2 separate regions of the Homo sapiens genome follow, and region 1 is linked to region 2. A link means that fine-mapping ties the variant in region 2 to the expression of a gene that starts in the linked region. Tissue or cell type: whole blood. Region 2 holds a variant in brackets; the other region holds the start of a gene. All regions are shown on one strand. Distances are from middle to middle. Region 1 holds the start of FHIT (fragile histidine triad diadenosine triphosphatase). Region 2 overlaps FHIT (fragile histidine triad diadenosine triphosphatase).

Region 1 (5,000 bases), 970 kb after region 2:
CTTTCTCTAAGCAGAGACTGTTAAGCAGAAGGGCTTACAGTCTCAGTCCTTTTATTCACCAGTGTTTTAACTTGAACAAGTTACTTAACTTTCCTAGCCTTAGTTTTCTAATCTGTAAAGTTGATATAAAAATGGTTCTCACTCTCATATAGCTTTTAAGAGGATTAAATTATAACACATATATTTTATTGAATATATATTATATTGCTAGCTGTGTAATCATGGGCTATCTTCTCAAGTTTTTTCTCATATACAAATGGGAAATGTAGTATTAAAAAGAGATCATGTGAACAGGTTCTAAATGGTCAAGTGTTAGTGGTTTTGGAAGCATGTACGTTAATACTTGGAACACCGTATACAACAATCCCATATCTAACACTTAGAACAGCATATGCAATCAATAACAACACACACACACACACACACACACACACACACACACACACACACACACACACACACAAACCCTAGACTTCTTTCTTTACTAAATATTTCTAGTCCAGGTTGCAGCAGGTGGACACAGGCCGGCAGCCATGAACGCAGGTCCACATGGGAGTTGTAGTTCCGAGTCAAGCGGCTGCTCTACAGAACGGCTAGAAGCGAGACTTCGTCTCCCAGGAGACATCTCGCCGTGCAAAATGGCACGCCACGAGGTGGAGTACCTGCCCGACGAGAAACAAGAGGCGGGACTGCAACTCCCAGAAGCCTCCGCGGCCAAGGCCTCAGGCCGCAGGCTGAAGCCAAGGAGGGAGAGTTCAGGTAGATCCGGCTTAACATCAGGTGCGAGTAGGGACCACCCTTGGTAGTCTGGGCCCGGCCCAGGTCAGAACCTTACTAAAACAACCACTGTGAGTATTTTCTATTGGTCCCAGCACATTTCTGAGAGACCAGAATAATAATAGCAGTAAATCTGCAAGTGGTAAACTTTCACAAGCATAACCTCAATTTAGATTTCGGCTTCAGGCAACATCCTTTGGCCACTTGACCTGGGAGCATTGAGCTCCTTGTTTCCCAGATAAGCGCTGTGAGTGGCTGTTCCAAGGTAACACAGCGAGGGCAGAATGTGAGCCTACAGAGAAATCTGCAGATGCATCTCAAGTTCCACTAACCTGCCTCCTTACCCCCCACCACCACCAACTTGGATATACCTTTAAAATTCCCCCCTTTGACGCTAAAAATAAAAACAACAACCATAAAATAAGTGTAAGAAAGTCCGACCAAGTACCGATGAGTTCTCCCACAACAATAAATTCGATGCCTCTTTGCCTGTTTTTGAAGTAGTAATGTAAAATTATCTCCCAAAATGCTGCCTTCTCTATACTCCGGTTTGCTCCTGTCCTGGGCACGTGTTCAGCAACCCCTTAGGGGAATCCAGAGCTGCGTGTTTAACACAGACCTGTTGGGACGGATTTTCGCTACTTGTCTATGAAACTGACGAACCATCCCAAAACGGCGGGTGCCGACTACACCCCCAGAGCCAAGAGCTGTGGCGTCCCCGGACCCGCTGGCGTGGCCCCGTGCCTCAGTTTCCCCAATGTATAAACACGGTGGAGGAGGAACGGGTTAGGGCTAGGGTCGGTGCTTGGGAATTGGGGGGCCCGAGTCCCCACCCTGAGACCCTCGTGGGGCGGAAGAGTACTCGGGACAGAAGCCCACCGCCCCGTGAGCGGCGCCGGCCCCACTGGGCTCCGGGGTGATGACCTGACGCGCGTGGAAACCCAGACCCGCGCCCCAGAAACAGTATTCCACTTGGGCTTGCCTCCCCGCCCCTACCTTCCAGGATGTTGACAGCTGGGAATGAAAGGCAGAGGGAGGGAGCGCGGGGCCGGAGCGCCGCCTGGGAGTGTGCCCACTGGGTGGCCGCCTGAGGGACCCGGGAACAGAGGGCAAAAAGTCCTGTGACCGGACAGAGCAGAGCGGGGACTGCAATTCCCAGAAGACCCCACGGTAGGGGCGGGACCCAAGATGGCCGCTTGTCTGGGGACAGGAGCGGAGGCCAATACGCGCAGAGCATGCGCCTACGCCGGGCCAATTGAAAGCCATAGTGACAGTAACCCTGATTCAGGGGCGGGAAACACTGACCACAGAAGACAAGTTGAGGTGAGAATCCCCTTACAAGGGGGTTTGGGGCATAAATCGCACAATCTTTGGCTTTTTCTAACTAGAAAAAGAAACATGATTCTTTTCACGTGTAACGAAAGGCTGTACCGCACTTTTGCTTTTTTCTTTCCTCCCAAAACGCGTTTAACTATCCCTTCACGACTTCCCACTGGCTGGATTTCTTTTCGTTTCATTTCCCCACTCTGGATCTTTCTGGATTCCTTAAGCCTTCTTTTCTTTATGTGTCTCTCAGAAACACAGACTTGCAGTCCCTGGCTTGATCCATCAAATAATGTGGTCATTTACGACTACGCTCAGCCCTCCCTGGCATCCTAACAAAATTGCACCACATGCGCCCCTTCTCTTTTCCTTTCTGTCTTTTCTGTGCTGTTTTTCTCCTTAGCATTTGTCGTTACGAAGCATTGTATAAAATTTACGTATTTATCTTTTTTACCATCTTACTTTCTCACTAGAATGCAAGATCCCTGCAGATGTGGATTTTTGTTTTGGTCACTGTAGTCTTTCTAGCACCTAGAAAAGTGCCCAGCACATAGTAAATACACCGTATTTTCAATAATTGAACGAAATCTAGAGTGACCTTTCTCCCCTAGTCTCCCTTTCTCTGGTGCAGATCAACCCGTTTCTGACCACCATGGTTCCTTGTGCTTGTTCCCCTGTTTAATCCAAAATCATTATTGATGTATTCTGTGCCAAATGCCATGTGGGTGCTGGAGAAATCATTGATTCAGACCCAATTCCTAACCTCAAAATGCTCTGTCTAGTGACGTATGAAAAGTAAAATTAATTTTACAATAAATGCAATTACAAATTGCAGAACACCTACGTAATTTTCACAAGGTCATGCAGCTCCTAAGCAAGGACTAGATTCCTGGCTGCAGACTCTTGCCATTACATCGGGAAAAACAAAGAGCAGTTTTCTCTCAGACAAACACTAAGATAGGTCCCCATTTTCCTTAGCACCATTTCCTTTCTCTGTCTCTCACTTTTTTATTTGGCCTGATTCATTACATGCAGGCAATTACATCAAGTCTTAGATCTCTCATTATTTCTAATATTTGAATCCCATGGAGAGTAGCAAGGTGTCCTACAAAGTGTCCTGGTGTGAAAATCTGATGTCCTTGGAAGCTTGACTCTCAGAGAATGTCACATTGGATTATAGTTCATCACACAGACACCATGGCCACATAAAATATTATCAAATTGTGAATAACAAAGTGAAATTGAAAAAAAAAATATAGTTAAAACAGCAGGAATGTGAGCAATATATGTACAGACTGATTTTGTGCATAGAGATTAAAACACCTGTTCAGGCTTCCTAGCCTAATCTTCTGTCAATTTGGGGTCATTTCCTGTAATACAATTCTTTGTTGCTTTTATGAGCACAGACTTAGCTCAGCAGTCCCAGCTATTCTCAAGCTGATCGACATGAGAGATTTCAACACATGTGTCAGCAGCCAGACTAAACGTGGAAGAAAATCAGAAGCATTTGAAACTGTAAAGCTCAATAACTTTCCTCCTCCTGAGAAAGCATCAGCCTATAATCATTACATCTTCTACTTAGCAGTCAAAAGGCAAATGTCATGAACATACTCAGGGTCTAAACAGTGGTGTCTAATGATTATTGCACTGTTGTCAGATAGCCTAATATGAGCACATAGGTATTACTTCAGCTGTGGATAATGCTGACTGCTGGGCTCAAGGTCACCCACGACCTTGAGCAACAGATACATTCACAAAGAGCATGAAGACATAGAACTTGCATTGGATTCAGGACCTTCAAGTGCCAAGACAATCAGTGGGAGGTTACTGTCTGATCTGCAACTTGACTGAATTAATAACCACCTTAGTATGGGTTCTCCCAGAAGCAGATCTGGAGACAGGTATTCAAGAGCAAGTATTTTATTTAGGAGGTTATCGCAGGAAACACCAGTAAGAGACTAAGAAAGTGAAATAGGGAAGAGAAGACCAAAAAGATGCCTTATCTAGCACATTACCGCTAGAGGCACCCAGAACTTAATCCTCCTAGAAATCTCTGGGAAACAATATGGAACATGTACCTTAGACTGAGTGATTCCACCAAGAGGACAAGATAACTGGGTTGTTTAAACACCAACTACCGTCAGTCAATGATTGGGGGCAGCTTTCAGGGATTATTAAGACCCTGGCTTGTCTGCAATGCTCCAAGAGTAGACAGAGTTGCCTCAGTGGCCACAGAAAGCCAGAGATAGAAGAATTAAGAGTCACATTGGTATACGCTGAAATAGTAAGGGAATATAGCATACTGGCGGGGCACCAATAATATCTGCTACAGGTGGCTTTGGTTTACCACAAGCTCATGTCACTGAAACTAACAGAATAAGAATAAGTCAGAAACTAAGTAGATAAATACAAAAAGCCCAAGCAGCCTACCACCTTCTATCACTCATCAACAATTAAGATAGATTGTACTTTCTAAATCCTCACTAAGACATACAAACCAAACAATAGCAGAAGCCTCATTTACACTGGGGAATAGGAACTCTTTGGGCATTTAAGGAGGGTGCTTTGGGAGCTTTGGGGCATGGTAGTGCAAGGAGAAAGAAGATTAAGAAAAGGGGAAAAGGACATTTAAAGAAACGTGTTAAAAACATTGTGTTTTTCATTTTATGGTCTTGAAACATGAGTAAAGGGTGTGGATATTTTAAGAAGGTAGCATCAAGATCTGGGTGACTTTTAGACCCAGAAGACAATTTTGTGAAAGACTTCTGTGGATTGTGCCATTATAGTACTTCTTCATAGCAAATATCTTTACTTGAAATTATACCCACATTTATTTGTCCTTTTGTTTATCATCTGTCTCCTTCAAACAAAAGGTAAACTCCATGAAGGTAAGAACTTTG
Region 2 (5,543 bases):
TGTAAATCAGACACCGCCTCCTCAAGCCTGCCTATAAACTCCAATGCACTCTGCCACAGGCTGGAAGTCTCATTCAGGCACCCTTTTCTCTCTCAAGAGAGAAAGCTGTTCTCCTTTCTCTTTCTTTTGCCTATTAATCCTCAGCTCCCAAACTCACTCCTTGTGTGTGTGTGTCCCTGTCCTTAATTTTCCCGGCATGAGATGACAAATCTCGGATATTATCCCAGCCAATGACACTGCTTCACTGCAATTTGCAACAAGAAAAATATTTACGACAAGGAAAAAAGATGAACCAACTGGAAATTAATGACTTTTTTAGATTCAGCAGAGAACTGAGGTCCAAAGCAAACTAGTATCCCCAAATTTGGAGAAACATGTAAACACAAAGAATCATAAGATCAGATTACCTAAAGCAAAAACAGAAGGACCTAGGAACTGATACGAACACGTGTATGATAATTTTGACAAATTGCTGGAGGCTCAGTGCAGACTAGCTTGAGAGTTAAAAACTCTTGCAGCCTAGTCTTAGGGGAGACTATACTTTTCTGAGTTTTATGTCCAAGAACCCTATCATGTTCTCATGGGGAAGTCTGGAGAAAAATCTCAGGGAAGAGAAAAAGTAACCATTTTGGAAGTTTCCCAGATTGTTCTCTGTAAGAAAGACACGTCCTTTCAGGGAAGCTATTTTACCAGAGTTCTATCTGACTTGGGAGAAGGGCAATTAGTCCCCTCCAGACTCTTTTAGCCTTCCTGTCTAATGTCAGGGGACGAAAAAAGGGCTCAGAACATTTCAGAAGATCGCAGCCTAGAAACTCAGGCTCACTAAGAAAACTGAGATGTAATCATAATATACAACAATTATCCTTCCTGAGACCTCATCACCACGTGAAGAGGTCTTTGGTGATTACAACTGAGAGGTGAAACACACAGACTCTATTGAATAAGGAGCTCTTAGGAAAGCCCAAAGACAACAGGGAAGACAAAAAATACGAGCACACAGAAGCATCTGGAACTTAAAGCTACAGCAAGCATTAAACACAGTCCAGCTCTAAGCTAGATTAACATAAAACCTCATAACAAAAAAAAAAATTCTTAGTTCCCATCACTCGAGGTATTATTTCCAGCTTTCAACAACAAAAATAAGGCATGCAAAAAGAAATTTCTTAAAGATAAACTTTAAACTATTTTAAACTAAATAAAAATGAAAATAGAGCTTAGCAAAATTTGTGGAATGCAAGGAAAACAATGCTTTGCAGGAAATTTAAAGAACTGAACACATATATCAAAAAAGAAGAAAGATCTAAAATCAATAATCTAAACTTCTGTTAGAAACCCACAGAAAGAAAAACAATTTAAACCTAAAGCAATCAGAAGAAAAACAGAATAGAAATTAGAGCAGAAATCAATTACATTGAAAATAGGAAATCAATCAGAGAAAAATTAACAAAACCAAAAGCTAATTATTTTCAAAAGATCAATAAAATTGCTAAACCTCTAGTCAGGCTAACCAGGAAAAAAAGAGCAACAATACAGATTACTAACATTAGAAATGAAAGAGGGGTCATCACTACTGATCTCACGGATATTAAAAAGATGATAAAGAAATATGATGAACAACTCTGTGATCTCAAATTTGATAACTTAGATAAACAGAGGCAATTCCTTAAAAGAAACAAACTACCAAAACTCACAAAAAGAGAAATAGATAATCTGAATAGGTCTATTCAGGTTATATCTATATCTGTATCTTTTTAAAACATTGAATCAATAATTAACTTTCTAAAAATAAATAATAAATTGGGTCCAGACAATTTAACTGATGAATTCTATCAAATATTTAAGCACAAAATGATAGCAATTCTCTACAACCTTCTTTAGATAGGTAAAGCAGAGGGAACACTTCCTAAGTCATTATGTTATACCAGCATTACTCTATAGCAAAATCAGAATACACGTGCAAACCCCATTAAAAGAAAGAAAAACTAGAAATTAATATCGCTCGTGAACATGATATAAAAAGCGTCAACAAAATCTTAGCAAATCAAATCTAATAATGTATAAAAGTTATTATATACTACAACTAGGATTTATTTCAGGTACACAGCTGGTGGAACGTTCAAAAACTCAACAAACATTCCTAGCACTTTGGGAGGCCGAGACGGGCAGATCAGGAGGTCAGGAGATCAAGACCATCCTGACTAACACAGTGAAACCCCGTCTCTACTAAAAATACAAAAAAATTAGCCAGGTATGGTGGCAGGCACTTCTAGTCTCAGCTACTTGGGAGGCTGAGGCAGGAGAATGGCGTGAACCTGGGAGGCGGAGCTTGCAGTGAGCGGAGATCGTGCCACCGCACTCCAGCGTGGGTGACAGAACGAGACTCTGTCTCAAAAAAAAAAAAAAAAACAATAGAAGAAAACCAAACAACAAAAAAAACTCAACAAACGTAACTTAGCGTATCAACTGGCCAGAGAAGAAAAATCATATAATAGCAACAGATACAGAAAAGCACTGACAAAATCCCACACTCATTTATGAGTAGAAACTCTCAGCAAACTAGGAATAGATGAAACTTCGTCAACTCGATACCAAAAAATCTACAAAAAAACCTACAGCTAACATGACATCATACTCAATGGAGAGAAACTGGATGCTTTAAGATCAGTGTAGTA[T/G]AGTAGGCTGACTAATGATCTCCCAAAGATATCAGGTCTTAACTTTTAAAACATGAAAATGTTACCTTCTTTGAAAGAAAGGACTTTGTAGCTGTAACTAAATTAAGAATTTTAAGGTGAGAAGATTACCCTAAGTTATCTGAGTGGGCCTTAATGCTATCAATCATAAATATCCTTATAAGGTAGAGGCAAAGGTGAAATAACACAGACTCATCAAGAAGCCAGTGTGACCAGGAACACAGAGATCACTGTCACACCCACACCCACAACCCAAAGAATATATGGAGCTACCAGAAGCTGTCAAGGAATGGATTTCCCTCCACAGCTTCTGTGGGAGTACGGCCCTGCTGACACCTAGATTTTAGACTTCTGGCTTTCAGAACTGTCAGGGAAGAAATTTCTATTGTTTGAAGCTACCAGTCTGTAATAATTTGATATAGCAAGCTACTGAGAACAAGGCAAGATTTTCCCCTGTTAATACTCCTATTCAACAGCATAATGGAAGACCTAGGTAAAAGTAAGACAAGAAAAGGAAAGAATATTAAGAAAAAGATATAACGATTGGGAAGAAGAAAATAAAACTGTTTTTGCTCTCATGATATGGCTGACTATGTAGAAAAATCCTAAAAAATTGACAAAACATTCTCTAGAACAAATAAGCAACTGCAGCAATGTTTCAGGATAAAATTTTTCTTTTATCCTGAAAAAAACAGGATAAAATATTTCTTTCCAATATGCCAGAAAATAACAAATGGAAATTGAAATTAGAAGCACAATATCACTTATATTAGCGTAAAAAATAAAACACATAGATGTAAAAATCTAACAATATATGTACAGGATCTGTAAGGAAATATAAAAAATTCTGATGAAAGAAATAAAATCTAAATAAACGAATAGATATTCTGTGTTCATGGATAGGAAGACTTGATACTGTTATCGGTTCTTCCCAACTTGATTATACATTCAACGCAGTTTCAGTCAAAATCCCAGAAAGTTATTCTGTGAATATCAAAAAGCTGATTGTAAAGTTCATAGAGAAGGGCTCAAGATCCAGAATAGCCAATAAAATATTGAAGAACAAAGTTGAAGGAGTGATACTACTCAACTTTAAGACTTGCTACAAAGCTACAGCGATCAAGACAGCATGGTACTGGTGACAGAATAGGTAAGTGAATCAAAAGAACAGAAGAGGAAATCCAGAAATAGACCAATACAAACATAAACAACTTGCCCTGGACAGAGGAGCAAAGGCAATTCAATAGACAACAAATAGTGCTAGAATAACTGGACATCCATATGCCAAAAAAAAAAAAAGGGGGGATCTACACACAGACCTTACACCTTTTACAAAAATAAACTCAAAACGCATCACAGAACTAAATGTAAAATGAAAAATGCAAAATGTAAATCCTCTGAAAGATAACACAGGGAAAAATACTAGATTTGAGTTTGGCAATTTGTTTATAGATATAACAACAAAAAATTATCTACAAAAAAAATTTTAAATTGAATTGTATTAAAATTTAAAACTTTTGCTCTACAAAAAATACTGTTAAGAGAATGAAAGGACAAGGCACAGAATGGTAGAAAATATTAACATCATATGTCATTAGGGGATTACAAATTAAAACAATGACATACCAGTATATACCTATTAGGATAGCTAAATCCATAAGACTGATAATACCAAATATTGGCAAGAAAGTGGAGTGATGGGAACGTTCATGCATTGTTGGTGGAAATAATGGTAAAATGGTATAGCCACTTTGGACTACAGTTTTACAGTTTCTTATAAATCTAAACATAGTTTCACCACAGAATGCAGTAACCAAGTTCCTAAGCATTTACTCAACTGAGTTGAAAACTAATGTTCACACAAAAGTCTGCTTAGGGAAGCTTATAGAAACTTTATTCATAATAATCTGTCTTTCACAACACGAGAATGTATAAACAAACTGTGGCAAATCCATACGACAGAATACTAGTCTACAATTTTTTCTTTAAAAGAACTCTTATGCCATAAAAAGGTGTGGAGGCACCTTACAGACATACTGCCATATGACATTATGGAAAAGGGAAAACTATAGAGGCAATAAAGGGATTACTAGTTACCAGGGATCCAATATAGTTTCTTAGGGCAATGTAGACTATTCTATACGAAACTGTAATGGTGGATACACGACAATATGCATCTGTAAAACTCCATAGAACCACAGAAGGCCAAGAGTGAACTTTAAAGTAAAGTATGAACTTCAGTTAATATAAATGTGTCAATATTGGTTCATTAACTTCAGTAATAAATGTGCCACACTAATGCAAGGTATTAATAGTAGGAGACACTTGGTGGTGGGGCGGGGATGGGGGAATAGTGGCGACACGGAAGGAAAATGTTATGGTAAGTCTCTCAACTATCTGCACAATTTTTCTGAAAATCTAAAGCTGTTCTAAAAAATAAAGTATTTTAATTTTATTTTAAAAAGTACATCTTAGAAAACATACCTAGGATGATCTCTAGGCTCTGGATCCAGAAACCCCTATTTCAAACAAGTAGGAAGATTCTTATGGCTGCTAAGATATCAGCAGTCCATGGTTTCAGGAATACAGAGCCCCAAGGTGAATACAACAACCAGACTGAAATAAGTGCAGTTCCAAGAATGGAGCTTAAACTGGAAAGACTAGAGAGCAGCTGGCTAGCTGTTTAGAGGTAACAGATGGCAGAACCCTCAGGATCAAGTCATCCTGAATGAAGAAAGACCTTTGGAGAGTGCACACTTGAGTAAATAGCGGCCTCTGTTCATGTTCTCCAGTAACAAAGAAATAAACTAATTAGATGGCATTCATAAGCAAGCTAAAATTCCTTTCACTGGA

The links.
Region 1: FHIT starts here. The variant in region 2 is fine-mapped to the expression of FHIT in whole blood (TOPMed, PIP 0.92).

What each region holds. Positions count from the first base shown.
Region 1 is chr3:61,249,528-61,254,527 of GRCh38, forward strand. FHIT (fragile histidine triad diadenosine triphosphatase) reads right to left here and starts at 1,925. Exons shown (of 10, transcript NM_002012.4): 1 at 1,774-1,925. It overlaps LOC124909387 (a long non-coding RNA gene), which reads left to right and starts at 2,065. Exons shown (of 2, transcript XR_007095939.1): 1 at 2,065-2,100. RefSeq lists enhancers at 514-793, 1,074-1,203, 1,344-1,473, 1,604-1,663, 1,728-2,022.
Region 2 is chr3:60,277,643-60,283,185 of GRCh38, forward strand. All of the region lies in intron 5 of FHIT (fragile histidine triad diadenosine triphosphatase), which reads right to left. LOC107986015 (a long non-coding RNA gene) reads right to left here. Exons shown (of 2, transcript XR_007095935.1): 2 at 1-5,543. Among named protein-coding and RNA genes, the nearest start is that of MIR548BB, 340 kb to the right of the region's middle. The variant T/G (reference allele first, on the strand shown) is at 2,673.